Homo sapiens: one gene and its partners. The protein of the gene in region 4 purifies or fractionates together with the protein of the main gene of each other region. This does not show direct contact. Each region holds a gene or a part of one and is shown on either strand. Other genes may lie near its edges.

Region 1 (4,024 bases), on a different chromosome or scaffold from region 4:
AACTCTCTAATAGTTATCAATTATGAATGGAAATGTACTATGCAATAGGATTAATGGCATAATCTCTTTAAGTGGAAAGAAATTGATATGCTTAGAATAGTATTTAAAATTTCACCCATGCATTTTATGACTTTAAAATGTGTTTTAACAGAATAAAAGACTTGTTTGAACACCTTTCTGAATGCCTGTGTCATATCACCTATTAGAGAGGTGGTTCTGGTGGCCCCGCGACACATGTATATTACACCTGTGATCTGGCTGAAATGCTGTCCCTGGGCCCTCGCTTGATTGTTGAAATAGTCTCATTTTAGGATCTGTTGGGATTCTAGTGAAGATTCCTTGTCTTTGTGATTTTCTCAGTAAGCTTCCTGATAGTCTGCATGGTGTATGTACAGAGTTACATTCCGTGATGATTGGTGGAAGTAAAGTTCTGGTAGGCTTTGATATTGCTGTGAAGAAAGGCAACCCTTGAAAGAAAATGAAGGATAGCTTTTTTAAATGTTGAAGTTAGACTGGAGTTACCCTCCTTTCTTAACTCATGAATGGATGTCTTAAGTATATCGTGAAAAGAAATGCTTTTCTTTATGTGCAGAGTGGTCCCGTTGGAGCAGTGCTTTCCACGTGGGATTATGTGGCACTTGAAGCTCTTGGCATCCCATAAATGTTTTGAAAATACTGATGGGATGAAAACCTCACTGAATTTCCTGTGTCCTGAAATGTACCTGGCAGTTCTTTCCCACAAGATGGTGGACAGCAGTTGAATAGGAATTGTTCATTGTGCTTAAAAATATCTCCACATGCATTTTGCTCTATGGTGGAAGTTGTCAGAATGAAGAGTCCAGCTCCACGTGATGAGGCCCTTATAACATGAACCACAATAGTCATTTTTATTTATACACCTTGTTATTGGAATCTTTTTCTTTTCTTTTCTTTTTGAGATAGAGTCTCACTGTGTTGCCCAGGCTGGAGTGCAGTGATGCAATCTGGGCTCACTGCAACCTCCACCTCCAGGGTTCAAGTAATTCTCATGCCTCAGCCTCCTGAGTAGCTGGGAGGTGCCTGCCACCATGCCTGGCTAATTTTTTTGTATTTTTGGTAGAGACGGGGTTTCACGACGTGACCAGTCTGGTCTGGAACTCCTGACCTCAAGTGATCTGCCCGCCTTGGCCTCCCAAAGTGTTGGGATTACAGGTGTGAGCCACCGCGCCCAGCCTGGCATCTTTCTCAGTGTTTTTAAAACATTGTTTATATAAAGTAAGCCTTTAATGATGATTTGATTGGATCACTCAAATTACTATATGTGAAGGAAGTATTTGGAAAATTCTATGTGCAGTTTCTTGTGCTTAACCTTTTATTAGGTTAAAAGAATGAAGGGTAAAAATATTATCTTTTTAAAATTAACTGAGGACATCATTGGAAGGAATCTTATATAGATTAAAAACCTTTAATTTATTGAAACTTTACATTTTCTCTCTGAAAAATGCCTTCAGAGGTATTGTTATGCCATATAGTTGCCTTATATTTTGTAGTCTTTTTTCCTTTTCCTTTTATGACTTATTACCACTGCTGTGTTTAAGGGAGTATTTTTGTTGCTGTAATTTTGGGGGTGAGGATATAAAAGACAGTTAAGTCTATTTCAGAACGCATTGCAGATAAAATTTTTGATATACAATATATTACAATAAAAATGTGAATCCAATTTAAAATAATTTATCGTGCTATGAAGCTGTAAATTGTTTTGAGACAATATAGGCTTATCCTAAATTAATTAAATTTATGAAGCTTAATAAAAACAGCAGGTGTTCTTAAATGTCCATTAAACATCTCTGTATACATTTTTCTGGGAGTATTGCTCTATTCCTAGAATATTCTATACCAGGTACTGCTGTGGTTCATTGAGAATGTTATTCAAATCTGAGTTCCATTTCTAGGGTTATTTTTTTTAAGCACAGCTAAATAAAAATCAACTTCTACTTTTAATAATTTTCTGTCTTTCCCATTGCAAAAAGTCATGTGCATCAGAGTTTTTAAAGCACCTTTTTAGTAAAGCAAAAGGTTTTGACATGTATTTGATTCTTCTACTATGTAGATCTAGATATGTAGATATATGTAGTAGTTTATATATTTGAATTTTTTATTGACGTATTATCCCCCAAAATTGCAAGTTATATGTGTATAGTTCAGTGAGTTTTCATAAGCTAAATTCACCCATCTAACCTGCTTCTTAAGAGACAGTACAGTACCAGTATCCTTGAAGCCCCCCTTAATCCTTCTTTTCAGGAACTACTCCCCTTTCTCTCCAGGGTAGCCACTCTCCTGACCTCTACAGGCTTTGTTAGTTTTTATTTTTGCCTGTTTTTGTTCTTTATATAAATGAAATAATGAAAAATATTCACTCTTTTGATCTCACTTCTTTCAGTCAACATTATGTTTGTGAGAGTCACCCATGCTGTTGCATGTAGTAGTGGATCCATTTATCCTCACTGCAAAGTTGTCTTCCATCATGCAAAGATATTCCAGCTCATTTGTCCATTGTACTTTAGATGGGCATTTGAGGGGTTTCCTATTTCGGGCTGTTACTGCTTTGTAGACTTTCCTCTAGATGTTTTTAGTGAACATATGGATACATTTCTGTTAGATTTATGTCTACAAGTGGAATTGGTGAGTCAGAGGAGTACATATGTTCAGTTTTAGTAGATATTGCCAAGCAATTTTCTAAAAGTAGTTGTGCCAGTTAATAGACCACCATCAGTGTATAGAAGTGCCGGTTAAATTCTTGGTATTGAACCAAGAATTCAATTCTTGGTATTGAACCAAGAATTCAATTCTTGGTATTGAACCAAGAATTCAATTCTTGGTATTGAACCAAGAATTCAATTCTTGGTGTATAAAAGTAGTTGTGCCAGTTAATAGACCACCATCAGTGTATAAAAGTGCTGGTTCAATTCTTGGTATTGCAACACTTGATAATGTACAGTTTTCATTGTAACCATCCTAATGGATATATACCAGAATCATAGAATAATTTTACTTTGTGCTTCTCAGGCGATTGATGAAGCTGAGTATTTGAATATCTTCTTTTTTAAAGGTTTTATTCTCTTTTATTATATTTAAATGTATTTTCAGCTATTTCTGCATTTAATTTGGCAGAGAGAAAATGTCTCTTGACTTCCTCATCTCTCTTGAATGTATCTGGAGACAACAAGTAAATCAAACAGTATAGAAATGAAAAACACAACCAAAGGTGGGAAGCAAAGAAGATGATGGGAAAGGGAAGATGAAAGTAGAATGAATTACTCACTCTTGTAGCTGAGGTTAAAGATAAATTTTAAATAATAAAAGTATCATGTGTAAACTTTTAAAGAAGACACATCTCAGATAGGGTCACAAAGTAAAACTCAATTATATGGTGTTTGTAAGAATGGACAAACCAGTGAATTCAAGAGGAAAGAAAGCGGTGCAGAAACAGCATTGTGTGAGCTTTAAAAAAGAGCACTTTATCACGACAAAGGGTGCAACTAACAATTAAAATCAGACATGATATCAACTTTCGTAATTGAAAAAAACAACAAAACTGTTCGAAATAGCAGGAGACAAAGCCACACACATTTGTCACAGAAAATTTTAACTCTTCTTTCTCATTCTGTGAAAGCTCACATAGACAAAAGTAAGAACATAGCATATTTATATAACATAATGAAAATTTGCTCTAACCAATACAGACCAGGGAAAAGATTGCTGATCATGCAACAAAAGACTACCTTTTATGTTAGGAAAGGAGGTTCATTGAAAACATAAGACAACATCATAACACAGCAGGAAAGGGGGCAAAGGACGTGAACACAATCCATAGAAATAGAGTTTCAAATGCTTTCTGTACATGTGAAAGTATATTCAATGTCATTGAAATACAATAAATGCAGATTTTAAGAATAGTGAAATGGGTATACGTATACATGTTCGTGGGTACATCAAGCAGTGGACCTTAGATTTATGTATTTGGCTGCATGTAGATGATACCTCA
Region 2 (4,732 bases), 9.1 Mb from region 4:
AGGGTCCTTCTCCATTCTCTAAAACATCCCTCTTCTCATAAAAGGCAGGCCCAGTGATAAGCCCTTCACATGTGATCTCATTCATAACACCCCTCAGGGGTTGGAGGGGCTGTGAACACACTATTTGTTGATTAACCCCATTTTACACATTAAGGAAACCAGGCCCACAGAGGTGAAGTGACTTGCCAATATCTTTAAGCCAGATTTGAAACGAAGTCTGTCTTAGTCTAGAGTCTACGCTCCAAAGCACCTAATTCGCTTTCCTCTCAGAGATGACTCTCTGCCCAGACCACCAGGTCACTACTAACCCACTACCCTTTCTTGCTAGGCATTCCTGCCACGATCCCTCCTGCTCTAGACACACACACAGGCCCACTCCTTTCTTCACAAGTCTCTGCAATGGGAAGTCCTCTTTCCAGCACCTGGGTCCTCGATAATCTCTAGGCCACTGCCTACCCCAAATCCACACTCCTCCCTCCGGGAAATTCTCTTATGAACAAGTATCCAATTCCAACCCCAAATCCTGTCTCTTCTGTTACCTCATTTCTCTCCTTATCCCCTTAGCCCCAAGTCCCAGGGTGCCCTCTTTTCAGAAAAACTCCACAAACTCTTACGCCAGAATCCCTTCTACTTACTCCTTAACCTTTCCAGTCCCCCCATTTCCCAGTCCTACTAGAAAGCTGCCCTGAGGCCTGGTGCAGTGATTCACGCCTGTAATCCCAGCACTTCAGGAGGCCGAGGTGAGATCACCTGAACCCAGGAGTTCAAGACCACCCTGGGCAACATAGCGAGACCCCCCATCTGTATTTAAAAAAAAGAGAAAGAAAGCTGCTTTTTTCTTTTTTGAGACGGAGTTTCACTTTTGTTGCCCAGGCTGGAGTGCAATGGCGTAATCTCGGCTGACTGCAACCTCCCCCTCCCAAGTTCAAGCGATTCTCCTGCCTCAGCCTCCCGAGTAGCTGGGACTACAGGCGCACACCACCAGATCCGGTTAATATTTGTATTTTTAGTAGAGACAGGGTTTCACTATGCTGGCCAGACTGGTCTTGAACTCCTGACCTCGTGATCCGCCCGCCTCGGCCTCCCAAAGTGCTGGAATAACAGGCGTGAGCCACTGCACTCGGCCCGAAAGCTGCTTTTTTTCTAACTGAAGATTCACGCCGTCCCATATCAGGTTTTCCTCTCCTCAGACAACCGCAGGTCTACCCGAACCCATTCCCAGAGTCACAGCTCCTGGCTGATGAAGAGTTCCGTGCTGCTCCCCGAGGGCCCCCACTCCCTGGGTACACAAATAACTGCTTCTGGGAACCGTCGAGATTTCTCCTGGAGACGCTCAGGTCCAGAAACATTCCCCACACTCCACTCTGAGGCCTCCAGTGAAGTCAACAGGTTTCTTTCTCTTTGCTCCCTACGGCCTCCCCCCTCCCCATATTCGCTAAGCCAGATACGTACTCCTGTGCTGGACACAGGATCCTCTGTCTCCCGCCACATATTTCATCCACTTGGAATGTTACCAACTCATCTGCCCCCATCCCACCCCCAGCTACCCTCTGTTCTCCAAAAACCCCACAGTTAGCTCCAGACCAGTCAGCAGCAGCCTCAAGAGTTATTTGCCCTCAGTTTTCTTAGCTCTAGACCCCCAGATCCTTTGTCCAGGAAAGCATCCTCTCCCCCGCCAGCCTCTGGACACCAGGGCTCCCTATACCTCTTCTAGAAGCCAACCAGAAAGTCCCCAGATCTCCCAGCACCTAATGTCCAGGCTGTGCCTGCTTCAAGGGTGGCCTTCCAGCCCCGGAAGAGAGATGGGGGTGCCCCCTAGTTCAATCTCCCGCAGCCCCTAAATGCTCACTAGCCAAACTCCAAAGCACTGAGTCCATTAGGACCCTCCCCAGCCACAGACACCAGCGCCTCCACCTCTCCCACCCACCCCCGTACCCAAATAGGAGAACGCCCAGGATCGCATCCAGCGGCATATTCCAGGATCCTCCTTCCTCAGAACTCTCGCAGCCCCGCACACCTGGACATTCCTTCCCCACCCTGGAAACACGGCTCCCCACCCCCCAGCCCACACGCTGGGCTAGCACGACCGCCAAGCCCACGGAGCTCCGTACCCTAGGATCCCCATTTTCGAGACCCTCCCCAACCCAAACGGAAAACCTCTTGTTCTTCCGACTCTCTTCGGCTCCAGAAAGCAGTTTCCGGTCTCCGATCCCTACGGTACGGAATCCTCCCCGCCACCCCCGTCCCTCACCTCCGAAACCCAGAGGCCCCTCCCCCAGTGTCCCCCCTGCACTGAGTGTCAGGATCCACCCTCCGGTCGTGCTGGGGCCCTGGTCCCCAGATCCTTTTCGGCGGCGGGTAGCGGGATCCCCCGATCCTCAGGTCGTCTCCCCGACCTCAGGCGCTGGACTCCCGCGTCCCACAGCCCTTTCCTCGGCCCAGGCTCCGGGCTCCCCGGCCCCCGCCCCGCGCACTCTCACAATGTCCGTCCGGCCCCGAGTAGCCGCCGGGCTCCGCGTGCGGCTGCAGCCCGGGCGGCGGTGGCTGCGCGGTCCCCTCCAGCTCGGAGCCCCCCTCGGTCTCGACCTCCTCGTTGATGTGCCCGGGTCGCCCCGGTTCGTCGTCGGCGTCGAGCTCCCGCTCGTCGTCAGGCTCCTCGGCCTCCAACGCCGCCTGCAGCCGCTCAGCAAGCTCGGCCTTGAGGCCTCGAGTGTCCAGGCCGCGGCGCTGCAGCTCCTCGCGAAGTTCGTTCACCTTCAGACGGCGCACATCCATGGCCCGGGCCCCCGGGGTGGCCCCCGAGCCCGGCCCGGCCTCCCAGGGCTCTGTCCCCCTTAAACCTTTCCTGTCAGGAGGCGAAGGGGGAAAGGGGGGGGGCCCACTCCAATGGCGGCAGCGGCTCAAAATGGCCGCCGCCACCGCCTCCCCCCTCACTCGTGCCTCGTCCGATGTTACATGAGTGCCAATTGGTCAGTGCGTGGGGCAACGGGCGCGGGCCCGGAAACCTAGCCAATCAGAGCGCCGTTTTCAAAACAACGGCCACGAGAAGGCCTAGGAGCTACTGGGGAGGAAGCGTTGGCCTACGTCGAAGCCGAGGCCGGAGCGGAGGGCGGGAAAAGGCAGGAGGCGGAGCGCTTGCTGATTGGGTAACTCTCGCGCGCCGGCTGCCGTAAGGTCCAATGAAAATAAGGGAGTAACAATTTGGTCCAATCAACGGTAAGATCTCAGAATGAGTGTCCCACGGCCTTTCCTGCGCAGTCCTTTCATCAAACTAAGTGTCTCTGTAACACACATTCCGATTGGTGTACATCTCCCGCCCCTTGAGGAGTCCGAGCGGGTAAAACCACTAGAACCAATCAAATGGAGGGTCGGCAGAAACCCCTCCTTCCTGTTGCCTTTAAGAAACCGGAAAGAGATGAATTCACCAGGAGCCCGCCCCTTGCCGTTAGGGCGGTTTCAAAACAATCTGCCCACCAATCGCAGTTATTGTCTTAGCTCACTAAAGCTGGTAGCGATGGCTCATTTTAGGAAAAGTTCACCAGATTGGCCGTGCTTCAGAGGACTGCCTCACAAATTTCGCTGTAGGAGGAGGTATACGAAATAGAGATTAAGTGGATACACAGTTCGTAATCTGGAAGGAACCCAGTTGCCTTTAGGAAAAGCAAAATTTTGAGTTGAGAGAGTCCCGAAGGTTTGGCTATAGAAACTAGACTAACAACGGGAGGCAAGTTGTAAAGGACACGGCCTCCCCTTCCCTTGGGTAGTCCGCGGCCGCCTTGCTCTATGGTCGGGTACCTGACGTGGAACGGGCGCTCTGCACGCGACCATAGAGCCTTCCCCTCCCGAAAGACATCCAGAAGTTCACCGACCGCTCTCCCGAATCCTCTAATCGGCTGTTCCCGTAAATCGGGCTGTCTGGCGTCTGTACCGACAAGCTCAACCCCACGGATCCGTCATTAACCTTCGCGCTCAGGAATACAAAAGCCACAGAGCTTCCCAGTGTCTAACGCTGCACCACCTGTCGCCTCTAACTCAAAACAAAACTCGAGTAAGACGCAATCGGGATACATGATGCAGACTCCCACTGCCTCCTGAGCCACACGTTAAGCCCGCAAAAGCCACACACTATCTCTACTCAGACAAAGGCACACCCCGCAGTCGTAAACAAACAGGCGTGCGTCAGATCAGACGCATCCAGTTCTTTTTTTTGTTGTTCTTTTTTTTTTTTTTTTTTTTTTGAGACGGAGTCTCGCTCTTGTTACCCTGGCTGGAGTGCAGGGCCTCTATCTCAGCTCACCGCAACCTCCGCCTCCCGTGTTCAAGCGATTCTCCTGCCTCAGCCTTCCGAGTAGCTGGGATTACAGGTCCCCGCCACCATGCCCGACTAATTTTTGTATTTTTAGTAGAGACGGGGTTTCACCATGTTGGCCAGGCTGGTCTCGAACTCCTGACCTCAAGTGATCCGCCCGCCTCGGCCTCCCAAAGTGCTGGGATTACAGGCGTGAGCCACCGCGCCCGGCCCCAATTCCGATCTGCTTTGGGTAAGGCACCCCGCTGCAGTGTAGATGTGCCCACTACGGTCCGCAGAGGCAGGCGGCATCGAATAATAAAGATAACACAGGATAGTTGCACTACAAGCGAACACTACAGCAACCCAAACACACAGCACCCACTCAGCAGCGGGACAGACACTCACGTGGGCCCAGAGGTTCCAGTCCAGACACCCCGCCCC
Region 3 (4,024 bases), on a different chromosome or scaffold from region 4:
CATTTTTATTTATTTATTATTATTTTTAAATTTTTTATTTCCATGGGTTTTTGGGGAACAGGTGGTATTTGGTTACATGAGTAAGTTCTTTAGTGGCGATTTGTGAGATTTTGGTGCACCCATCACCCAAGTAGTAGGTATGAATCCAGTTTGTAGTCTTTTATCCCTCACTTCCTTCCCACCGTTTCCCTGACTCCCCAGAGTCCACTGTATTATTCTTTTTTTTTTTTTTTTGAGACAGAGTCTCGCTCTGTCACCCAGGCTGGAGTGCAGTGGCGCAATCTTGGCTCACTGCAAGGTCCGCCTCCCGGGTTCATGCCATTCTCCTGCCTCAGCCTCCTGAGTAGCTGGGACTACAGGCGCCCGCCACCATGCCTGGCTAATTTTTTGTATTTTTAGTAGAGATGGGGTTTCACCGTGTTAGCCATGATGGTCTCGATCTCCTGACCTCATGATCCACCCGCCTCGGCCTCCTAAAGTGCTGGGATTACAGGCTTGAGCGACCACGTATTGTATTATTCTTATGCCTTTGCATCCTCATAGCTTAGCTCCCACTTATGGGTGAGTGAGAATATACAATGTTTGGTTTTCCATTCCTGAGTTACTTCACTTAGAATAATAGTTTCCAGTCCCATCTGGGTTGCTGCGAATGCCATTAATTCATTCCTTTTTATGATTGAGTAGTATTCCATTGTATATATATATCTCCCACAGTTTCTTTATCTACTTGTTGATTGATGGGCTGAATGACTTTATATTTTAAAAGTGCTCAAATCATTGCATGGCACAGAGTGAGGCCTCTAGAAAGTTGTGTTAAGTAAACAAAAGAAGTCCTGAATCAAGGCAGTGGCAGTGGGAATAGAGGGGAGAAGACAGCAGTATTTGGGAGATCGTTTAGGTTGGATGATTAGGTGGAGGGCCAGAGGGAGGAGGAAAAGCAGTGGCCATGTTTCTGTTTTGGGTGAATGGTGGTGCTATGCATGGAGATGGGGAATAAAGGGAGAGAAGCAGGTCCCAGCTGAAGATAAATTTAGTTGAGGACATTATTAGTTAGAGGCACCTTTGGGAGATTTGCAATGGGATGGATTTGGCTGCATGTTGGCTGCATAAATATGGAATTCAGAGCTGGTCTGGAGAAACAGACACAAGATTTAGGAAGTATCGGTATGTACATAAGTGGTACTGGGGTTAAGTAGGTGTGAGTTAGTTCGCACAGTGTGAGTGTGTGGTTCCGGAGTTTTGACTTGGGGTTCCCAATAGGCTTTAGGGGAAAACCCCTAACATTGGATACAAAGTTTTGTGCATATGTTTGTTTTTTCGTATTTCCGTGGAAAATATGTGTAGCTTTCATCCACAAAAGCATAAAAACAATTGGCATGATTAGTGGGAGAGCACCTGCTTTGTTTCCTTGGCACACATTTTGGCTTATTTTAATAAATGAGCAACTTGTTGCAGGTGTTGACAACTTCCTTCACTAGCATATAAGCTCTGTAAGGGCAGGGGTCACAAGGAGAGGGAACTGCCATATAGCGCGTGGCTCACGGTGCGTTTTCCACAAATATTAGAGGAATGAATAATTACAAGTGAACTTTATATTTCCACTAAAAATACAAATAAACTAGAAGGTAAAACTTCCTGGTATAAAAACATCTCTCGCACTGTTGCATGACTTTATATCTAAGCTATTAAAACACTTAGCGACAAATAATATTGCCTAGAGAAATACAGTTATTTTATTATGTTGTAGGTCTATTTTCAGTTTGGACTTAATTTCTTTTTTTTTGAAACGGAATTTTGCTCTTGGCCAGGCTGGAGTGCAATGGTGCGATCTCAGCTCACTGCAACCTCTGCCTCCCAGGTTGAAGTGATTCTCCTGTCTCAGCCTCCCTAGTAGCTGGGATTACAGGTGTGCACCACCATGCCTGGCTATTTTTGTATTTTTAAGTAGAGACAGGGTTTCTCCATGTTGGTCAGGCTGGTCTCGAACTCCCAACCTCAGGTGATCCACCCGCCTTGGCCTCCCAAAGTGCTGGGATTACAGGTGTGAGCCACTGCGCTTGGCCCAGTTGGACTTTATTTCTGTGTTCATTTAAGTAGTTTAAATTTGATTTTTTTGGCTCAGAAGTCAGTTGTAAAAAGCTAGCTTCTGGGCCGGGCGCTGTGGCTCATGCCTGTAATCCTGGCACTTTGGGAGGTGGATCATGAGGTCAGGAGTTTGAGACCAGCCTGGCCAACATAGTGAAACCCTGTCCCTACTAAAAATACAGAAAAATTAGCTGGGTATGGTGATGGGCACCTGTAATCCCAGCTACTTGGGAGGCTGAGGCAGGACAACTGCATGAACCTGGGAGTTGGAGGTTGCAGTGAGCTGAAATCGCCCCACTGCACTCCAGCCTGGGCGACAGTGCAAGACTCTGTCTCAAGGGAAAAAAAAAAAAAAGTTAGCTCCTGGATGAATAAAAACCATAATCGGAGTACATTAGCCCTGGTGAAAATGTCAAAATTCTGAAATAAACCATTAGATCAGGCATAAACAGTCTCAAATGCTTTAGTTATCCCAGTTATGCAGGTATGAAAAGATGCTTTTTAAACTTAAATTAGATAATTATTTCCATTTGCTATTTTAATATGCCTGTGTTGATTTGTATTTTTGGATCAGGTACCTGGAAACTTCTGTGATAGAGTATTTCATTGAATGCGTAGTCTAAAGCTCAATGATAGTAAATATTATGACTTCAGAATCTTATTCTTCCCTCTTGCCACAACAGCAGTAGAAATGGGTCTTTTTGCTGTCATGGGAGTGGCCTCTCAGGTAGACTTAACAGATACTGGGGTGAGTAGGGGAAGTAGTTTCTATTCTCTATTTCTGTTCCCTCAGTGTGCTTTATTTCTTCTGTTCTTTCTTTTCTGTGCTCTGCTTTGTTTTCTAAAGATGGATTAAAGAAAGATTAGGAACAGAAAGTAGAATGAAAGCTTCACAAGAACAGAGACCTAGCCTGTTTTGTTTATCCCAAGCATCAAAAATAGTTCTTGGTCCATAAAAGGCTCTGAGTAAATATTTCTTGAATGGATAAATGAATGATTGAATGAAAAAAGTTGATGCGGGCTCTTAAAATTCTTCCTAGCTAGAACTTGTTACTGTTCAAAAGTTTTTCAGACCACACTTATATTTCACTCACCAGTGTTTTCCTCAGAGAAGTTTTTGAGACCCATGCTAGACTGTTAAATTAGTAACATCAATTATAAATCTAGAGATATTTCTGATTTCTTTAAAAAAGTTATTAGTTTGACTTAAAATAAATTTTAAAGAAGAGGAAATGTCCTACTAAAAGTGAAAGTATATTTTTGTTTTTTGTAGCCACAATGTTTTAATATGAGAGTAACAGAAAATCAATTATAGAAACTCAGTTTTATTAACTTAGCTCAGAAATAATATATAATCAGCATTAATTTAATACCTTCTTAAAATTTCTTAGGTAAAGTCATAGCACAAAGTTAATCCCAATTAAAAGATTCTTTTAATACATAATCTTTAAAAACAAATCTACCATTTATTTTGGTTTACATAATCAAGAACCTCTCTTTCTGAGTGCAGTTGTGAAGGTCAGTGGCCTGAGGAATAACCGTTCATGTGTTCAATGAATTTTTTTGTTTTTAAGACGGAGTTTTGCACTTTTTCCCCAGGCTGGAGTGCAGTGGCGTGATCTTGGTCCACTGCACCCTCCACTTCCCGGGCTCAAGCCGTTCTCCTGCCTCAGCCTCCTGAGTAGCTGGGATTACAGGCACGTACCACCAAGCTCGGCTAATTTTTGTATTTTTAGTAGAGATGGGGTTTTGCCATGTTGGCCAGGCCAGTCTGGAACTCCTGACCTCGTAATCCACCCGCCTCGGCCTCCCAAAGTGCTGGGATTACAGGTGTGAGCCATCACGCCCTGCCTACCATTTCTTTTAGAAATGAAATTACTGGGCAAAGGGTATGTACCTTTAAAATTTTGGTAAGTGTGGCTAGATTGCCTTCCATAAA
Region 4 (4,024 bases):
TAATTTATGTATAACATATATTATATATTAATATATTTTGTAGAGACAAATATATTTATTTGTACATATAATATGTGTGTGTATTTGTGTATATGTGTATATATATATATATATATATATATTTTTTTTTTTTTTTTTTTTTTTTCTTTTTTTTGAGACTGGGTCTCGCTCTTTTGCCCAGGCTGGTCTCAAAGTCCTGGGCTCTAGCGATCCTCCCGCCTTGGCCTCACAAAGCACTGGAATCACAGGTGTGAGTCACTGTGCACGGCCAGTTGTTTTTATCTTGTAATAAAAAAGAAGGGCCTCCCTGTAGTTGTGCTGTGGAGAATGGATCCTGGGGGATGAGGCTGGAGATGGGAACCAGGGGGGAGGCTGAAATGGACACAGGGAACGGTACAGGGGCAGGAGTGCCCCAGGCTGCAGGCCCCAAGGTATTTCGAGGCTGTGGAGACACACCTTGGAGGACCCTGAGAGGCATGGCCGCTGTCTTACCCTGTGACCCCACAGGCCCAGCGCAGCCTGTGCCTGGGGGGCCCCCACCATCCCGCGGCTCCGTGCCTGTGCTCCGCGCCTTCGGGGTCACCGATGAGGGGTTCTCTGTCTGCTGCCACATCCACGGCTTCGCTCCCTACTTCTACACCCCAGCGCCCCCTGGTGAGTGGCCCCTACCCAGCCCCTCCCTGAGCCACTGGAGCCCCCTGCACCTCTGATCATCCCTCCCACACCAGGTTTCGGGCCCGAGCACATGGGTGACCTGCAACGGGAGCTGAACTTGGCCATCAGCCGGGACAGTCGCGGGGGGAGGGAGCTGACTGGGCCGGCCGTGCTGGCTGTGGAACTGTGCTCCCGAGAGAGTGAGTGCTCCCCCAGGATCAGCGGGTTGGAGGGTCCCCTCGGGAGGCCATTGGCTGGTCCCAGCTTCTTCCATCCACAGGCATGTTTGGGTACCACGGGCACGGCCCCTCCCCGTTCCTGCGCATCACCGTGGCGCTGCCGCGCCTCGTGGCCCCGGCCCGCCGTCTCCTGGAACAGGGCATCCGTGTGGCAGGCCTGGGCACGCCCAGCTTCGCGCCCTACGAGGCCAACGTCGACTTTGAGATCCGGTACGGCCTCTGCCTCACTTCTCCGGCCTCTATCCCCACCCTCGGGCAGCCCCTGTCCACTGACCCCCAGCCCCCTCCAGGTTCATGGTGGACACGGACATCGTCGGCTGCAACTGGCTGGAGCTCCCAGCTGGGAAATACGCCCTGAGGCTGAAGGAGAAGGTGCAGGGCTTCCCAGGGCAGGGCTGGGTGGGGAGCTGGTACCCTGCTGCCACCGCTGACCCACCCATGCCCACAGGCTACGCAGTGCCAGCTGGAGGCGGACGTGCTGTGGTCTGACGTGGTCAGTCACCCACCGGAAGGGCCATGGCAGCGCATTGCGCCCTTGCGCGTGCTCAGCTTCGATATCGAGTGCGCCGGCCGCAAAGGTCTGTCCCCGGGCCCGGGCTCCTGCCCGCCTCATTGATGTGCCAAGTCGGGGGTCGGAAAGGCAGGTCCGGTGGAGGGAATGGCAAGCATGAAGGTGCCGGGGCAGGAGCACCCCAGCCCATGTGGCCAGATGGAGTGAGCACAGAGGGTGTGGAGATGGCCTGGAGGTGAGAGCAGAGCAGGAGCCAGGGTGAGCCACGTAGGGCCGGCAGGCAGCGGGGACAGCCCCGGGGAGATGGCAGGTGCAGCCTCCCTGCTGTGTTGGGAGTGAGGGGCAGGAGTCAGGCCCCTGCATCCTCCTGCCTCGCAGGCATCTTCCCTGAGCCTGAGCGGGACCCTGTCATCCAGATCTGCTCGCTGGGCCTGCGCTGGGGGGAGCCGGAGCCCTTCCTACGCCTGGCGCTCACCCTGCGGCCCTGTGCCCCCATCCTGGGTGCCAAGGTGCAGAGCTACGAGAAGGAGGAGGACCTGCTGCAGGTAGCTCTCGCTCCACGCCCCACACCATTTCCCGGGGTCCCCGCCAGCCTCCGCGTCCTGAGCCATCAGCTCCTGGGTGCTGCGACGCCCATGTCTGTGGGTCTGGGTGGGTGTCTGTGGGTCTGGGTGGGCCCCTGTGCAATTAGGCTTGAGCACTTCCCCTCTGGGTTCTGCAGGATTTTCAGGGGTGGCTGGGGTTCTAGAACATTCTGGAAGTAGGGGAATCCGAGGCAGGGCAACCACCAGGGTGACCCAATGTGCTCCCACCCCCAGGCCTGGTCCACCTTCATCCGTATCATGGACCCCGACGTGATCACCGGTTACAACATCCAGAACTTCGACCTTCCGTACCTCATCTCTCGGGCCCAGACCCTCAAGGTGAGGGCTGGGCAGGTGGGAGGCTTCTCTCAGATGCCCCAGGTGTGGCCTCCGGGCCCTGGGCCTCCTTCCCACTCCCTCTCCACATGGCTTGGTGCATCTTGCTCTGTGTGCCTCAGCCGATTGCCTGCAGGGGCAGCCTAGGCCTGGTCCTGCCCTGCTCCAAGTCGAAAAAGTTACTGTGGCTTTTATCAGAGGCAAGGAGGGCGTTACGGTGGAGTAAGAGAAGGCTGTGCATTCAAGGTCGGCCTGAAGCTTGCAGGGGTTCAACAAGCCATGAAGCAGCCACTGAATCCCAGTCTTCCTTTAGGTTATATCAGCATAAGGAAAAGAATCATAATGGAGGAGGAGGGGGGAGTGTGTTGACTGATGGGGCAAATTCCGGATGCTTCTTGAGTCTGCATGTGTGTAAGGGTGGATTCCTCTGCCCGAGTTGCTGTAACAAAGAGCCACAGACCAGGTGGCTGAAAACAGCAAAAAGTCATTGTCTCACCGTCCTGAAGGCTGGAAAGTCCATGACCAAAGTGTCAGCGGGCCTGCTTCCTTCGGGGGCTGCAAGGGAGGACTGGTTCACGGCCTCTCTCCTTGGCTTGCAGACGGCCATCATCCCCCTGTGCCTCTTCACACCGTCTTCTCTCTGTGCGTGTCTGTTTCCACATGTCCTCCCTTTTTTTTTTTTTTCCAAGACAAAGTCTCGCTCTGTCGCCCAGGCTGGAGTGCAGTGGCGCAATCTTGGCTCACTGCAAACTCCGCCTCCCAGGTTCATGCCATTCTCCTGCCTCAGCCTCCCAAGTAGCTGGGACTACAGGCGCCCGCCACCACGCCTGGCTAATTTTTTGTGTTTTTAGTAGAGACGGGGTTTCACTGTGTTAGCGAGGATGGTCTTGATCTCCTGACCTTGTGATCCGTCTGCCTCGGCCTCCCAAAGTGTTGGGATTATAGGCGTGAGCTACTGCACCCAACCCCTTTTCTCTTTCTTTTTTTTTTTTTTTTTTTTTTGAGACAGAGTCTCGCTGTGTCGCCCAGGCTGGAGTGCGATGGCACGATCGAGGCTCACTGCAACCTCCACCTCCCAGGTTCAAGCGATTCTCCTGCCTCAGCCTCCCAAGTAGCTGGGATTACAGGCGTGAGCCACCACGCCCCGCAAATTTTTGCTTTTTTGTTATTGTTTCTTGAGATGGAATTTCGCTCTTGTTGCCCAGGCTGGAGTGCAATGGCACGATCTTGGCTCACCACAACCTCCGCCTCCCAGGGGGCGCTGGGGTGTAGAAGTGATTCTCCTGCCTCAGCCTCCCAAGTAGCTGGGATTATAGGCACCCGCTTCCATGCCCGACTAATTTTGTATTTTTAGTAGACAGGGTTTCTCCATGTTGGCCAGGCTGGTCTCGAACTCCCAATCTCAGGTGATCTGCCCACTTCGGCCTCCCAAAGTGCTGGGATTACAGGCGTGAGCCACCGCGCCTGGCCTATTTTTGTTTTTGTTTTTGTTTTTTTTAGCAGAGACTAGGTTTCATCATGTTGGCCAGGCTGGTCTCCATCCTCACCTCAGGTGATCTGCCCACCTCAGCCTCTCAAAGTGCTGGGATTACAGGTGTGAGCCAGTGCACCTAGCCCACATGTCCTCTTTGTGTAGTGACACCGTCGTGAGGTGAGGGCCCACCCCAGTGACCTCATCTTCACTTGACCCCCTGCGAAGA
Region 5 (4,024 bases), on a different chromosome or scaffold from region 4:
TTTAATATATTTTGTCAGCCAGGTGCAGTGGCTCATGCCTGTAATCACAGCACTTTGGGAAATCAAGCTGGGCCGATCATTTGAGTCTAGGAGTTCAAGACCAGCTTGGGCAACACAGCGAAACCCAGTCTCTACAAGTAGAAAAAAACAGCCAGACATGGTGGCACATGCCTGCGGTCCCACCTACTCAGGAAGCTGAGGTGGGATGATCATTTGAGCCCGGGAGGCAGAGGTTGCAGTGAGCCAAGACTGCATCACTGCACTCTAGCCTGAGTGACAGAGTGAGACCCTGTCTCAAAAACAAAAAACTTGTCAAACTGCTTCCCAGCAAAACAATGGCAATCTACATGTTTTTGAGTTAGAAATATCTATCTCAAGCTACCTATGTCAGAACTGTAGGTTGCCTTTTAATATTCTTGTTTCCTGTGTAGAAGCTTTTTAGTTTGATGTAGTTCCGTTTATTTCTTTTTGCAGCTTGAACTACTGATGTGATCCAAACAATCATTACCAAGGCCAATGTCAAGAACCTTTCCCCTATGTTCACTTCTCTGAGTTTTATGGCTTCAGGTCTTACATTTAGATCTTTCATCCATCTTGGCTTGATTTCGGTATATGATGTAAGCAACACAAACATCCAACATTCATTTCTTCAAATGTGGAAATCCAGTCTTCTCAACACCATTAATGAGGAGACGATCACAACTCCATTGGGTCTTCTTGGCACCCTTGTTGAAATTAGTTGACCATATGTTTGGATTTATTTCTAGGCTCTCTATTCTATTCCATTGGTCACTTTTCTGTTTTTATGTCAGTACTGTACTATTTGGATTACTATAGTTTTATAACAGTTTTCTAAATCATGAAGTATGATGCCTCCAACTTTGTTTTTCTTGCTCAGTACTGCTTTGGTTATTATTCAGGATTTTTAAAACTGATTCCATCAGAATTTCAGAATTTTTTTTTTCTATTTCTGCGAAGAATGCCTTTGGAATTCTGACAGGATTGGCCTGAATCTTTTTACCACTTTATAGTGTGGACATTTTAGCAATATAATTCTTCTTATCTATGAGTATGGTATATCTTTCCCATTATTTGCATCTTCAATTTCTTTCGTCAATGTTATATTATTTTCAGTATATGAATCTTTCACCTCCCAGGTTAAATTTATTCCTAAGTTGTTTTTTGATGGTACTCTAATGAAATCTTTTCTTAATTTCTTTTTCAGCTAGGTCATTGTTTGTGTATAGAAATGCTACTAGATTTTTTAATATTGATTTTGTATCCTTCAATTGTATAAATTCACTTATTAGCTCTGACAGGTTTTTGTGGAATCTTTCAGGTTTTCTACATATAGGATCATATAATCTATAAGTAAAGATAATTTTATTTCTTCCTTTCCAATTTGGGTGCATTTTATTTCCTTTTCTTGTCTGATTGCTCTTGCTGGTACGTCCAGTACTATACTGAATACAAGTGGTGAGTGGGCATCCCAGCCTTGCATTGGATCTTAGTGAAAAAGCTTTCAGTTTCTTTCTTTCAGCCACCAAGCAGTTAAATAAATTCTATTACTTTTTAAGTCACTTCATAGTTTTTTTTTTCTGAAAAATTTTATGTGACTGTGTGCACACTATTTTCCTCGGTTACAGATCCATAGTTTTTACAAGATTTATAAAGATTTTGTGACAGCTCTGCTTCTTTCCAAAAGATTAAGAACCTCCGTATTGGGTTTTATTTCTGGACTGCCTTTTATTCTCTGTACTGATTTTTATATCAGCATTGTAATATTTTAATAACCATAGCTTTATAAAACTTGAATATGTGGCTATGCAAGTACTTAATTTAAATTGATACTTCCTTTTTTTAGAAGCATCCTAGCTATTACTATGTTTTTTTCCCCAATCATCTTTAGAACTACATTAACAAGTTTCTGGCTATCTGACTTGGACTTAAGAGTCAAAATGTATTACCAACACATTAATTTGGAAAACATTTCCATCCAGAAATTTGCAATATCTTCATTTATAAAGGTATATTCTCACAGTTTTCAGAGAAGTATTTGAGTTTTCTTGGGTATTGAGTCATTCTTCATATAAATACATTTCTTACAAAGCCTTTCTAGGTATACTACGAGGCTTTTTTGCGCCTATTCAGATTCTGGAAGTAAATTTTTTTTTCCCTTCAGAAATGTGAAGAAATTATCTTTTAACACCAAATAAAATGCAAATTTTAAAAAAGCAATGGCAAAAGTATAAAGTTGTATCTGGTTAAAAAATAATTGCATGCAACCACTTTAATTAACAAATTTGTCAGCAATCCCTGTGATCATATTCAAACTGTCATTCTTATAAAACTACCCTAAGGAAATGACTACCAATGTGGATTCACCCAAATTCCCAACTGTATCACATTTGATATAATACCTGGACTACAGTCAGCATTCAATAGATAATTTCTGTTGAATAAAAGAGATGTCCAATCTATCAATAAAACATAGATCCAATTAAGGAATTTATATTTACATATTTTTGTTGGTAGCTTCCCCTAATAGGACATCAGTTACATCTTCCCATTGACTAATAACTGATAAACAATCAGAATAGAATGTCCCTTCAAGTAAAATGTCTACAATGAGCTTATTCTAAGAAATATCTCTTACCTGAATGGCAATATTGCGATCCTGAGCAATTTCAAGTTCTTTGTTTTTCTCAGTTAGTGCCTTCAGTTGATTGTCTGGATAAAAGGAATTTTATGAATACATACACATTTGCTTAAAACTTGCAATGAGTGTTTTTATGCAACTGCCAACCTTACATATTTTAATAAATGAAAAAACAGAAGCCCAGAAAGACTGCATTGTACATCACATTCCAAATTCATGAATGCATTCAAAATTTACTGTGTTCTAGACCAAAATTTTAAATATGCTATCCTGTCTCCAAATCAAATGTATAATAATCCTAGCCAACATTTATGGGGAAAGTCACATGCAATTAGTAATTCCTTTATTTTTCAGTGCCATCTTCTAAGTCAACATATATCATAAGAAACAGTGAACTGTACTTAGCAGTAAGAAAATGGAGTTAAAAAGACAGGATCAAGAGAGAAAAAGCATTTAAACTATATAACATGTATATACAGCAAATCACAATAATGAATATTTGCAATTCCTATCATTTATCACTCTAAATAGAGCCTTTAAAGAAAAAACATTATGCTTGATAACGCACTTATCAATCTCTCAATTGCCACTCAAAATGGGCTCTTTTCCCTTACATGCAGTTTCTCTTCTAAACATAGGCTAACTAGAAAAAATATAATTTTTAAAATTTTTCCAAAAATATACATTTTGAAACTGTATTTCACTAAAATACATATGTTGGCAATTTAATAAGCAAATACATTTTAATTAATTCTAATCTTAACTTCTATTTAAAGAGGACCATTAAAGCAAAAAAATCCCCATTAAATGTGTCTAAATTTTCTATTTTGTTTTAATATTATTTACTGCTTTCCAGACTTACTGATCCAGAGTATATAAATACACACACACGCGCGCACACATTAACTGTATACCACAGGAAGGTATCTGATGTATCTGTAGGTTCATCCCTTTTTCTCTTCTCCCAGATCTCGTAAAAGCTGTATTCAGTCATTTTTCTCAAATTCCTCGGCACTACTACTAAACAGATCTTTTTATTATGGCTAGGCAAAACTACATAGATAATGAACCAGATCTAGCTATATATGCTCCATCACACATGTATGCATATACATTACGTTTTTAAAATGAGGTGTACCAAAAGTAGCTGAAAAAAGTTATAACCTAAATAGTTGATGGTCATGGACCCATTAAGAAGGAAAGCTGCAATTTTAATCATTTGATTATGAACTTCCTGTGTTCCTTCTCCATCAATCAAATTAAAATTGAACTATATTAAGTATCAATTAATTATACCAGCCAGACACAGTGGCAATCCCAGCACTTTGGGACGCCGAGGCGGGAGAATCGCTCGAGGCCAGGAGT
Region 6 (4,024 bases), on a different chromosome or scaffold from region 4:
AAAGTGTCCAGGAATGAAATTTGTGTTACAATGTAACTTTGAGGAAAAGATGGCATTTTCGTTTAGAGAAGATGGCATTTCAGTTTGCCGTCTTATATTTATCTAAATATATAAACCTTAACATCGAACATGCCGAAAAATCTTCAAAGTTATAGAACAAATAAAATTCCAGCCCTATTAAATACTGAGCAGATTTTCCAGATAGAGTAATGACATTATTTCACCTGCATCCTCCTGCCATTTTCTAATATTTGCCTTTTTAAAAAATCACGATGAATTTGCTGAAAACCTTGTACCTTGGGGCTTTCTTACTAAGTTTGTAAGTGATAAAACATGGCATAAGAAAATGTTTTATAGACAGGCAGTCAACTTTGCTGAATATTTAATTATTCTAACATTCACCTAAGAAAAAATAAAAACTCACCTCACATTGCAAGACAAATTGTTTCCCTCCTTTTATTCTGAACAAAATGCATTTTTTGTCTTTAATTTGAGTTTCTTCCACAGAGAGAATCTGTTCCATTGTCAGTAAATTTTGCTAACCATAAAAACAGAAATTTAAAATTCAAATTATTTTGTGATTTCTTAAGTAGTAATACCAAAAACTACCAAGTTAGAACAAGTAAAAAAAGAAAACACATTCGGTTTTCTTTCTTTGATGGTATTCTAGAAGTAAGGGGAAAATGGCTATAAAGGAACACAAACAAAAGTTCAAATTATAATGTTTCAAGGAAAACTGCAGAGAAAGCAATGTTTTGCTAGGGAAAAACGGCAAAGCTGTTCCCTCAACACAGAACTGATTTTGAATGATGATGAATCGCAAGCCTACTTGCTGTATGGCACACTCATATACATTCTGTCAATAACATTGTGAGGAAGCAACAGAGCCACATATGATTTATGTGAGCCAAAGGTGTGTGGTTCAGTTTTAAGGCAGCAACTCAGTAAATGTTTACTGATGTCAGCTTGTAAGCTAACAATATTTTGATAGTATCCCAATGATGTCATAAATAGAGGTGGTTTCATTAAAAGATTAAAAGGTCTATAGGCTGGGCGCGGTGGCTCATGCCTGTAATCCCAGCACTTTGGGAGGCCGAGGCGGGTGCATCACGAGGTCAAGAGCTCGAGACCAACCTGGCCAAGATGGTGAAACCCCGTCTCTACTAAAAATACAAAAATTAGCCGGGCGTGGTAGCGGGCTCCTGTAGTCCCAGCTACTCGGGAGGCTGAGGCAGGAGAATCGCTTGAACGCAGGAGGTGGAGGTTGCAGTGAGCCAAGATCGCGCCACTGCACTCCAGCCTGGGCGACAGAGCAAGACTCTGTCTCAAAAAAAAAAAAAAAAAAAAAAAAAAAGTCTATAGTATTATTCCTTAAAGTGAATGCTATAGTGTCATGAGTTCCTTAGCGTCTTACGGTTTTTGTTTTAAATAAATACTTCAGGAATCCTGAATGAGAAATGGCACTCTGATAAACACTCAGGTTTTCTTTTTCCTTACTTAGACTTACAAATCTGCTCATGCATATTATGTAGCTTCTTAAATAGAACACTAAATGTTGAACCTTTTAAAACCAAGCTCATTTATTGCATCCAATGTTAAACAAAGGTAAAAGTTTTGTTTTTTTAAGTTTTCAAACAGCCTGAAAAGTGGGGTGATTTCCTTTTAACATGCCAGTGGGTAGCATAATAAATGTATAATCTGCCCAGGTCCGCTCATTACCTGGAAATACAGTGAGCTTTGGGGAGCTACTCTGATGCTTCCCAGCCCTGAGTTACACTTCAGGTCCCCAAAAGGATCTTATTAATTGGAACTTAGATCCTAGATTCTAATTTTTCAAAAATAACTTCGATGGCAGGAGTGATGGTTGGGAAGATCTTCTTTCTTTTCAAAGAAATGGAGTGATATGCAATTGTAATCATTCATAATTGAATGAAAACTTTGCTAACAGTAAACTAAAAATACAGTCCAAAGTCAAATACATGAGATTTAGGTGCCCTGTTTTCCACACTTCTGATCTCTGGAGAACAGATGGGTGGTATTCCAACATATCCAACACATAAACAATGTTTTGAGTGTTTGGGACCATCGTCCTGCTTACGATGACTCACCAGGCCCCCCCCCCACCCCACCAAGAAAAGAAAAGATGCCTTCCACCAGGGTTGGCTCCTTCCTTGTTGACAAGCCCTGGGCTCTTCACCCAGTAGGCACTTAATAAATGCTGCCTGATTTGCTGAAAGGTAGTGCGGATCAGAAATTTCTTTTTATCTTGTTCACAAACATTAGCTCTCGAAAGGATCTTAGAGGGCAGCTACATCTTGCTGTCTGTTGTATGATCCACCTACAAATTCTCAACAAGGTGGAGACACAAGGAAGCATCTTTTGGTGACCTCATCTCTGTGCCAAGTGTCATGGCCTGGGACATTTTATTTGACCCAACTAGGAGAGGCCGTACAATGGAGAGACTGAGGGCACAGGATGACCTGGTCTGAGTCACCCTTCCACCTCCTAACTGTCCAGTTGTGTTTTTGGGTGGCAGACTTTCCTCTTCTAAGCCTGCTTTCCTCTTTATAAAATGAGAGTTGGACCCTCAAAGGTTCCCAAACACATGGAGTTTTTTTTTTTTTTAACAGCACTTGACCTCAGATAAACATGCAAAAATTACAGTACAGTCATCCCTTAGTATCCACAGGGGACTGGTTCCAGGAACCCCTGAGTAGCATAATAAATGTATAATCTGCCCAGGTCCAAATTATACAAAATCCACAGATGCTCAAGTTGCTGATATAAAATGGTATCGTATTTGCATATAACCTTCACACATCCTCCTGTATACTCTAAATCACCTCTAACGTAAATGCTATGTAAACAGTCGTTAGACTGTGTTGTTTTTTTTCTGTATTAGTTTTTATTGTTTTGTTGTTATTTTAAATTTCTTTTTCCCGCATATTTTCTCTCCTTGGTTGTTTGAATCCCAGGATGGGGATCTGTGGATATGGAGGGCTGACTGCAGTTGTTATGATTTCTATTTCCCTCATTTCACAGATGAGAAAACGGAGGCTGAGAGAGTCAATGTGACGTGTTCAAAGTCCCAGAGACACTCAGCAGTGGAGCTGAACACCTCTGTCTGACTTCAAAGTCCAGCTTGTCTTTTCTTTTTAGATCTGTCTAACTGCTCTCCAGCCTTCTTCAAATCCATCTGATGATGTGGTGCTTCTGACCTCACTAAAAAGCATGTTCTATTTTCAGGTATTACCAAGTTGTTCCTTGACTTGGAAGTTTAAAAACAAGTTAAAGTTTGCACATTACAATCTCATGTAGAGCAGTAAAATAGAATCACAGAGTTTCGGAGGATAGTGTATAAAACATGTCAGCAACATGAAATAACCATATGCCATTGTACGTACTGGGAAACATGCTCGGTGAGGCTGCCTTAGACTTACCCGGGACTCTCCCTCTCCTCTCCATTCAAGTCTATTTGGAAAGAGGTAAAAATAGCGACGCTGCCACTGAGTCAGAAATGGGTTTCCCAGTTTCAGCATGTACCCGTGCATAATACAGTCCTTCCCCAGAGCGTAATCTGAGGAATACAAAATCACTAGGAGTTAAATAGGCTCTGAAACAAAATGTCTTAGCAGCATTATTCTCTGAAAAAAGAACAGACATGCTTTTTGGAAAAAGCAGGTTTCTATAAATAGAACGCATTACAGAAGTCACGATTTTAGTTTTAAGTGCATGTGTACTGGGGATCTAAAGATCAGAGGGTTCTGCAGCTCTCTCTGCTCACACAGTAAATGATTGCTTCTCAATATGCTGATAAATCCATGATGTTCATTTATTGCTCTGGGAGGGCAAAAGTTAGTTTCCAAACTCTTTTCATTATGTGTAATGAGAACCGGAGAATAGACGGTATTTAAAGTCAAGCTATCCCCAAAGTACCTTCGCCTTTACGTGGGGTTGGGATTCCCCCTTTAATCTCCCTTTTATCTTAAAAATAATAATAGTGGGAATTTTCTTGTCTAAGTAA
Region 7 (4,602 bases), on a different chromosome or scaffold from region 4:
TGTGGCAGGAATGCCAGGGGGAGCTCTGGGGGCTGGGTGGGCTTATTTTTCTCCTGCCCCCACATCCATCCCCCCCACGGAGGCAGCTCCCTCCCCGAGCCGGCCTGTCATCCCACATTGCTCTGATTAGCTATAATCTTTCTTTTTCAATTTCTCCTCCCCGAGACTAGGGAGCGAGAAAATCTCCCAGAAAATGAATAAATATTTCAATTTTCGGCGCAATCAGTCTGTGGAGCCGGCGCATGATGGAAACGGGGGGAAGGATAATGGTTTTCATTTAGATAAGATACAGAAAATTATTTAGTGAAAAATGAAGATTGATGAAGCCCATTGAAATTCTTTAAAATGCGATTTTTATTTCTCAGCCTAGGCTGAATCTCCCCTTCCCCTCTCCTCTCTGCTCCCCTCAATTCTATGGCTTCCTGCTGACACCTACTCCCCCATCCCTATTCCCCCACCATCATTCCTCCTCCCTTTTGTAGCGCCCCCCTCCGTTTCCTCTCTCACTGCCCCAGTCCCTGACCTAGAGCTCCTTTCTGAGGATGGAGGCTAAGGAAAGGGGGTCCTGCCAAGCTCTCCACCCCCATGTGTGTCCCAGTCTCCCCAGACCCCTACTCCTTCCCTCTCTGCCTCCTCCCCAGTCCCTTGCCAAGCTTCCCCCAACACTCACTAGTGATTTCCCCTCCCCTCCTGTCTAGTCTCTCCCTTTCTTTTCTCTGGTATCCTCTCCCCCAACCCCAGACACTTTCACCAGGTCCTGCTTTCACCCCTGTTGGAGCAGAGAAGTGGGAGCTCAGCATTCCCTAGCCACTCGCTCCTTTCCAAAGAGAGAAAGGCACACAACACACAATTCTTTCTGTCCCCAATTCAATCCACATGTCTCTCCTGTTTGCTAACTGCTGCTTTTGTTCCTTAACACTCATTTGTATCCATGATGCTGACATGTAAGGGCTGTAAGAAAGGGACAGACATAAGCTTGCCCCCAACATAGACCAATACTGACCCAGGGGCCTCCTCCACCACCAACATGACCCCCCTCCACCACCACCATGGCCCACCCCCTTCCTCCCCGACACCAACAGCCTGGCTGAACAAAGTCAGAACTTAAGTCATCTTCCCAACTTTCTGCCAAGTGGCTGGCCTGGCCTGCCAACCCCAGGGCCAGGCCTCCTCCTTTCCCCTAGCACCACCTCCCACTCCTGGCTCACACCACAGATGTGTGCCCTTCCCATATCATAGTGTGTGCTGGGGGGCTGGCATGGGTGCCCTGTGGGGAGAAATGAATCAAGACGTGCCCCCACCAACTCAGCCAGGCTTTGCCTTCGGAACTGGGAAGAGACCCGACAAGGAGAGGAAAGGTCCAGCATAACACACCACCTACAAACGCAGGAAGGGAACAGAAAGCAGGGCAATAATGCCTGAGGCTGTTCTACCCAGATCCATTCCCAGACACCCCCTAAAAGAGGACACCTCCTCCATCTGCAGTCTGTACATCTCCATAGGTGTCTGCCCATATGAATGTCTGTTCAAGTTTCTTTGTTTGCTAGAGGGTTGGTTTCTGTGAGAGCGTGTGTCCTGTCCTTGTAAACGCCTGCATACATGTACTGTGTATAGTTGTAACGTTCGGGTGGATGAATGCGTGAGTGTGTGCCGATCTGGGGGAGGAATCTGTCTTCCTCAGATGTCTCCGTGTCTTTGTGTATATGTGTCTGTCTCAGTGTGGGGGATGTTTGTGGGGATGTCTCTCTCTCAGTAGGTGAGTAGTCTGTCTCAGTGTCTGTGAGTGTTTTACGGTGTTTGTGTGTCAATTTCTGTGTGTCAGCTCCATTTTTGGGGAGGGAAGGAGTTCAGCAGGATTCAGTCTTCCTTAGAGTCAGACCTGGGAGGCAAGAACCAACTCCCACAGACCCCAGTCCCTGCTGCAGTCTGGACCCTTGGTTCCCTCAGCCCTCTTCCCTCCCCCAACCCCAGCCCTGCCCAGGATACACTGACATCCTCATCTCTCCCAACCACCTCCCTCACCTCCCAGCCTCTCCCCTGCCAGTGTCAAATAAGCCCCAGACAGCAACACTTTCCTGAGCCCAAGTAGAGTGTCAGCCCCCTCCCCCCACCGCCTCTGCCCCCGCCCCCGTGAGTTCCCCCCCTCTGTATCAAGCGGGCCTGAAGCTGTATGTGGAACTCCACTCTCCACCCAGAGCCTCCGTGGGCAGGGGTTCCAAATCCCCACTAGAGGCGCCGAGACACCCCTCCCTTCCTCTAGAGGGGGCAGCCCCAGGCAGGCTGGAGCCGTGATTCAGACTCAGACCCCCGAGGGGCTGGGCTGGAGTAGGGGGATCCCCTTGGCAACATCTTCGGGAGGTGGGACCCAGCTTTTCGCTCACCCCCTCGCCCGAAATCCGAAATCCCACCCTCTTCCCAGCCTTGCCCTTAGGCTGGACTCAGGCGTCCGGAACCCCGGCCTCAGAGGGCGAGGGTCGGTAGGGCTGCCAGAAGCTCAAGAGAAAGCGTTCGGTTCCCCGTTTTACTCGGACCTCCAGCCCTCGCGGCCCCATTGCTCGGTTCTCCCGCGCAGCCAGAGGAAACAACTTGGGCAAATCAACGGCAAACTCATTCTCCCCAGCCCCTCGTTACTCCGCGCCCCCTCCCCCAGGGCTCTGCGCCCGGACCGAGCCCCCGCCTCGTGGCGTCCGGACCCGGGGACTGGCCGCGGGCCGCGGGGCACTCCAGCACTCTCCCACCGGGGAAGCAGTGCCCCGGCCCCGGGGGGAAGCCGAGCGTCCGGGGGTGGGCTGGGGGCCCTTACCTTGGGAGAAAGTATCGGAGAGAGTGAGGATCCAGACGAGGAGGCTCAGCATGCTGTCCGCCCGCCGTGCGCCCGCCCGCGGCTGGGGCCCGGAGTTGGCGAGCGAGCCAGAGGAGCGGGCTGGGGAGGAGGGGAGCCCGGGAGCCCGGGAGCCCGCCCCCCGCCCGCCCGCGCCCGCCCCTGCACACACACACGCGCGCGCGCACACTCACGCGCACAAACTCATTTCCCTGCCCTCCGATTCTCTTTATCTCTCTTTCCTCCCAGACCTTTTTCTCCTCCTGGTCGCCCTCCCCCTTTAATTATTTCTCCTCTCAAGCTGTATCTCTCTGGGTCTCTTTCGGTCTTTGCTCCCCCTTTCTCTCCCCTTCTCTTCCTTCCCTCTCTCCCTCCCTGCCTCCCTGCCTGCCTGCCTCCCTCCCTCCGCCTGACGTCTACTCTCCCTCCGACGGCGCCTCCCTCCACGAGCCCTCCCCCTGCCCCCCCACAACGCGCGCACACACATACCCCCCTCGCTGGAACTGAGATGGAAGGAGAGCAAAGAGGGAAAGGAATTGAGGGCAAAGGCAAAAGGGGGTGAAAAATGTGACCGTCGTGGGTTCTGGGGCAGGCACGACGGGACCCCTGGCCACCCCACCCCCTCCTATTTATAGACGCAATCTTGGTCGCGGGCTATGGAACTAAGCAGTGGAGGAGGAACATGGGCTGAGGGACATCAGCCTCTAGCTCAGAGGATGTGATGGGGAGTGTGTGTGTGTGTGTGTGTGTGTGTGTGTTTCCGTGTGTGTGTCTAGGAGTGGGGTGGGGGGCAGGGAGTTAAATAAACATAAAGACCTTTCTTTTTAAATTCCACACCCAAAGTCTAGCCCCTAGATTCCCCAAATTAAGAATTCTCAATTGACTAATGAATGCTTGGATAAGGGAGGGGCATACATGCCTCTCCCCACCTATAAAACCCAGAACTGGAGAATGGGAGCTGCCTCTTGGACCTGCCTTGAGGCCCTGCCTTGGCTTCACCCAGTCAAGGTTGAGCACAGCTAGGCGTTGGAGGACTCAGCGGCCTGGAAGAGGCACAGTTGACCCTTCCTTTGTTCATCTTAGCCTTCCACCCATCCCGAAGGAGAAGGTAGCCAACTGGATGGCTTTGAAGGGCCAAGACCTGGCCTCACCTCCCTGAATGCAAGCCAGAGGAGAAGACAGCCACCAGTCAGATCTCTAAGCACGCTGGAGTTTGAGATCTTTTGGGGTAGGGACATGGAGGAACTAGGAAGGAAGGGAATTCCTGAGAATCATGAGAGCATTCAGGAGGGATCTCCACTTTCTTAAGGGCCCAGTTTGGCAACCAGCTCCTCTTCTCACCCCTGACCAGATACTTCTGCTCACAGGATTGCTCGGGTAGCCAGAGGTCTGGACCCTAGGGAATGGACAGAGAAGTTGCTGGAATTGCACAATTTTACAGTAATGTGTTGGTCCAAAGAGGTCTCCACTTCTTTCCTCCCAGATCCCAGATCTCCTGGGTCTCTAACACTCCCCGCCAAGTTTTCTCAATTTCTGCCCCTGAAAGTAGGTGCGTGGCTCTCTGGTGCCCTCTGTTGATGTGTAGCGGCCACAGCTCCTCTTTCCTCCGCAGATACTAACACCAGCCTGTGGTCCAGACGCATCCACACACAATTAGAAGACAGAGAAAGGCAGGAAAACACCCAAGCTCATATGCAGAAGCCCCATATGCACAGACCCAGAGAATTCTTCATATATTCCAAAACACAGGCAAGCACAGCTTAAGAATAGAGCCATACTTT

What was found.
Region 1: the proteins of POLD1 (region 4) and KIF16B purify together in Homo sapiens (affinity purification with mass spectrometry, with the first as the bait; one large-scale study listed by BioGRID). This does not show direct contact.
Region 2: the proteins of POLD1 (region 4) and HNRNPUL1 purify together in Homo sapiens (affinity purification with mass spectrometry, with the first as the bait; one large-scale study listed by BioGRID). This does not show direct contact.
Region 3: the proteins of POLD1 (region 4) and RFC1 fractionate together in Homo sapiens (co-fractionation; one large-scale study listed by BioGRID). This does not show direct contact.
Region 5: the proteins of POLD1 (region 4) and TPR purify together in Homo sapiens (affinity purification with mass spectrometry, with the first as the bait; one large-scale study listed by BioGRID). This does not show direct contact.
Region 6: the proteins of POLD1 (region 4) and GRK3 purify together in Homo sapiens (affinity purification with mass spectrometry, with the first as the bait; one large-scale study listed by BioGRID). This does not show direct contact.
Region 7: the proteins of POLD1 (region 4) and KIRREL1 purify together in Homo sapiens (affinity purification with mass spectrometry, with the first as the bait; one large-scale study listed by BioGRID). This does not show direct contact.

The regions. Positions count from the first base shown.
Region 1 is NC_000020.11:16,500,122-16,504,145, reverse strand, and holds part of KIF16B (kinesin-like protein KIF16B), read left to right. Parts: intron 1-4,024. UniProt on the Homo sapiens protein: Plus end-directed microtubule-dependent motor protein involved in endosome transport and receptor recycling and degradation.
Region 2 is NC_000019.10:41,262,547-41,267,278, reverse strand, and holds the start of HNRNPUL1 (heterogeneous nuclear ribonucleoprotein U-like protein 1), read right to left. Parts: upstream 2,908-4,732; 5' UTR 2,776-2,907; coding exon 2,481-2,775; intron 2,415-2,480; exon of another isoform or gene 2,397-2,414; intron 2,199-2,396; exon of another isoform or gene 1,964-2,198; coding exon of another isoform or gene 1,936-1,963; intron 1-1,935.
Region 3 is NC_000004.12:39,356,032-39,360,055, reverse strand, and holds part of RFC1 (replication factor C subunit 1), read left to right. Parts: intron 1-4,024. UniProt on the Homo sapiens protein: Subunit of the replication factor C (RFC) complex which acts during elongation of primed DNA templates by DNA polymerases delta and epsilon, and is necessary for ATP-dependent loading of proliferating cell nuclear antigen (PCNA) onto primed DNA.
Region 4 is NC_000019.10:50,401,271-50,405,294, forward strand, and holds part of POLD1 (DNA polymerase delta catalytic subunit), read left to right. Parts: intron 1-507; coding exon 508-654; intron 655-728; coding exon 729-854; intron 855-934; coding exon 935-1,103; intron 1,104-1,183; coding exon 1,184-1,265; intron 1,266-1,341; coding exon 1,342-1,471; intron 1,472-1,782; coding exon 1,783-1,949; intron 1,950-2,222; coding exon 2,223-2,327; intron 2,328-4,024. UniProt on the Homo sapiens protein: As the catalytic component of the trimeric (Pol-delta3 complex) and tetrameric DNA polymerase delta complexes (Pol-delta4 complex), plays a crucial role in high fidelity genome replication, including in lagging strand synthesis, and repair.
Region 5 is NC_000001.11:186,368,314-186,372,337, forward strand, and holds part of TPR (nucleoprotein TPR), read right to left. Parts: intron 2,731-4,024; coding exon 2,657-2,730; intron 1-2,656.
Region 6 is NC_000022.11:25,717,798-25,721,821, reverse strand, and holds part of GRK3 (G protein-coupled receptor kinase 3), read right to left. Parts: intron 3,578-4,024; coding exon 3,441-3,577; intron 539-3,440; coding exon 425-538; intron 1-424.
Region 7 is NC_000001.11:157,991,930-157,996,531, reverse strand, and holds the start of KIRREL1 (kin of IRRE-like protein 1 isoform 1 precursor), read right to left. Parts: upstream 2,888-4,602; 5' UTR 2,856-2,887; coding exon 2,804-2,855; intron 1-2,803. UniProt on the Homo sapiens protein: Required for proper function of the glomerular filtration barrier. It is involved in the maintenance of a stable podocyte architecture with interdigitating foot processes connected by specialized cell-cell junctions, known as the slit diaphragm.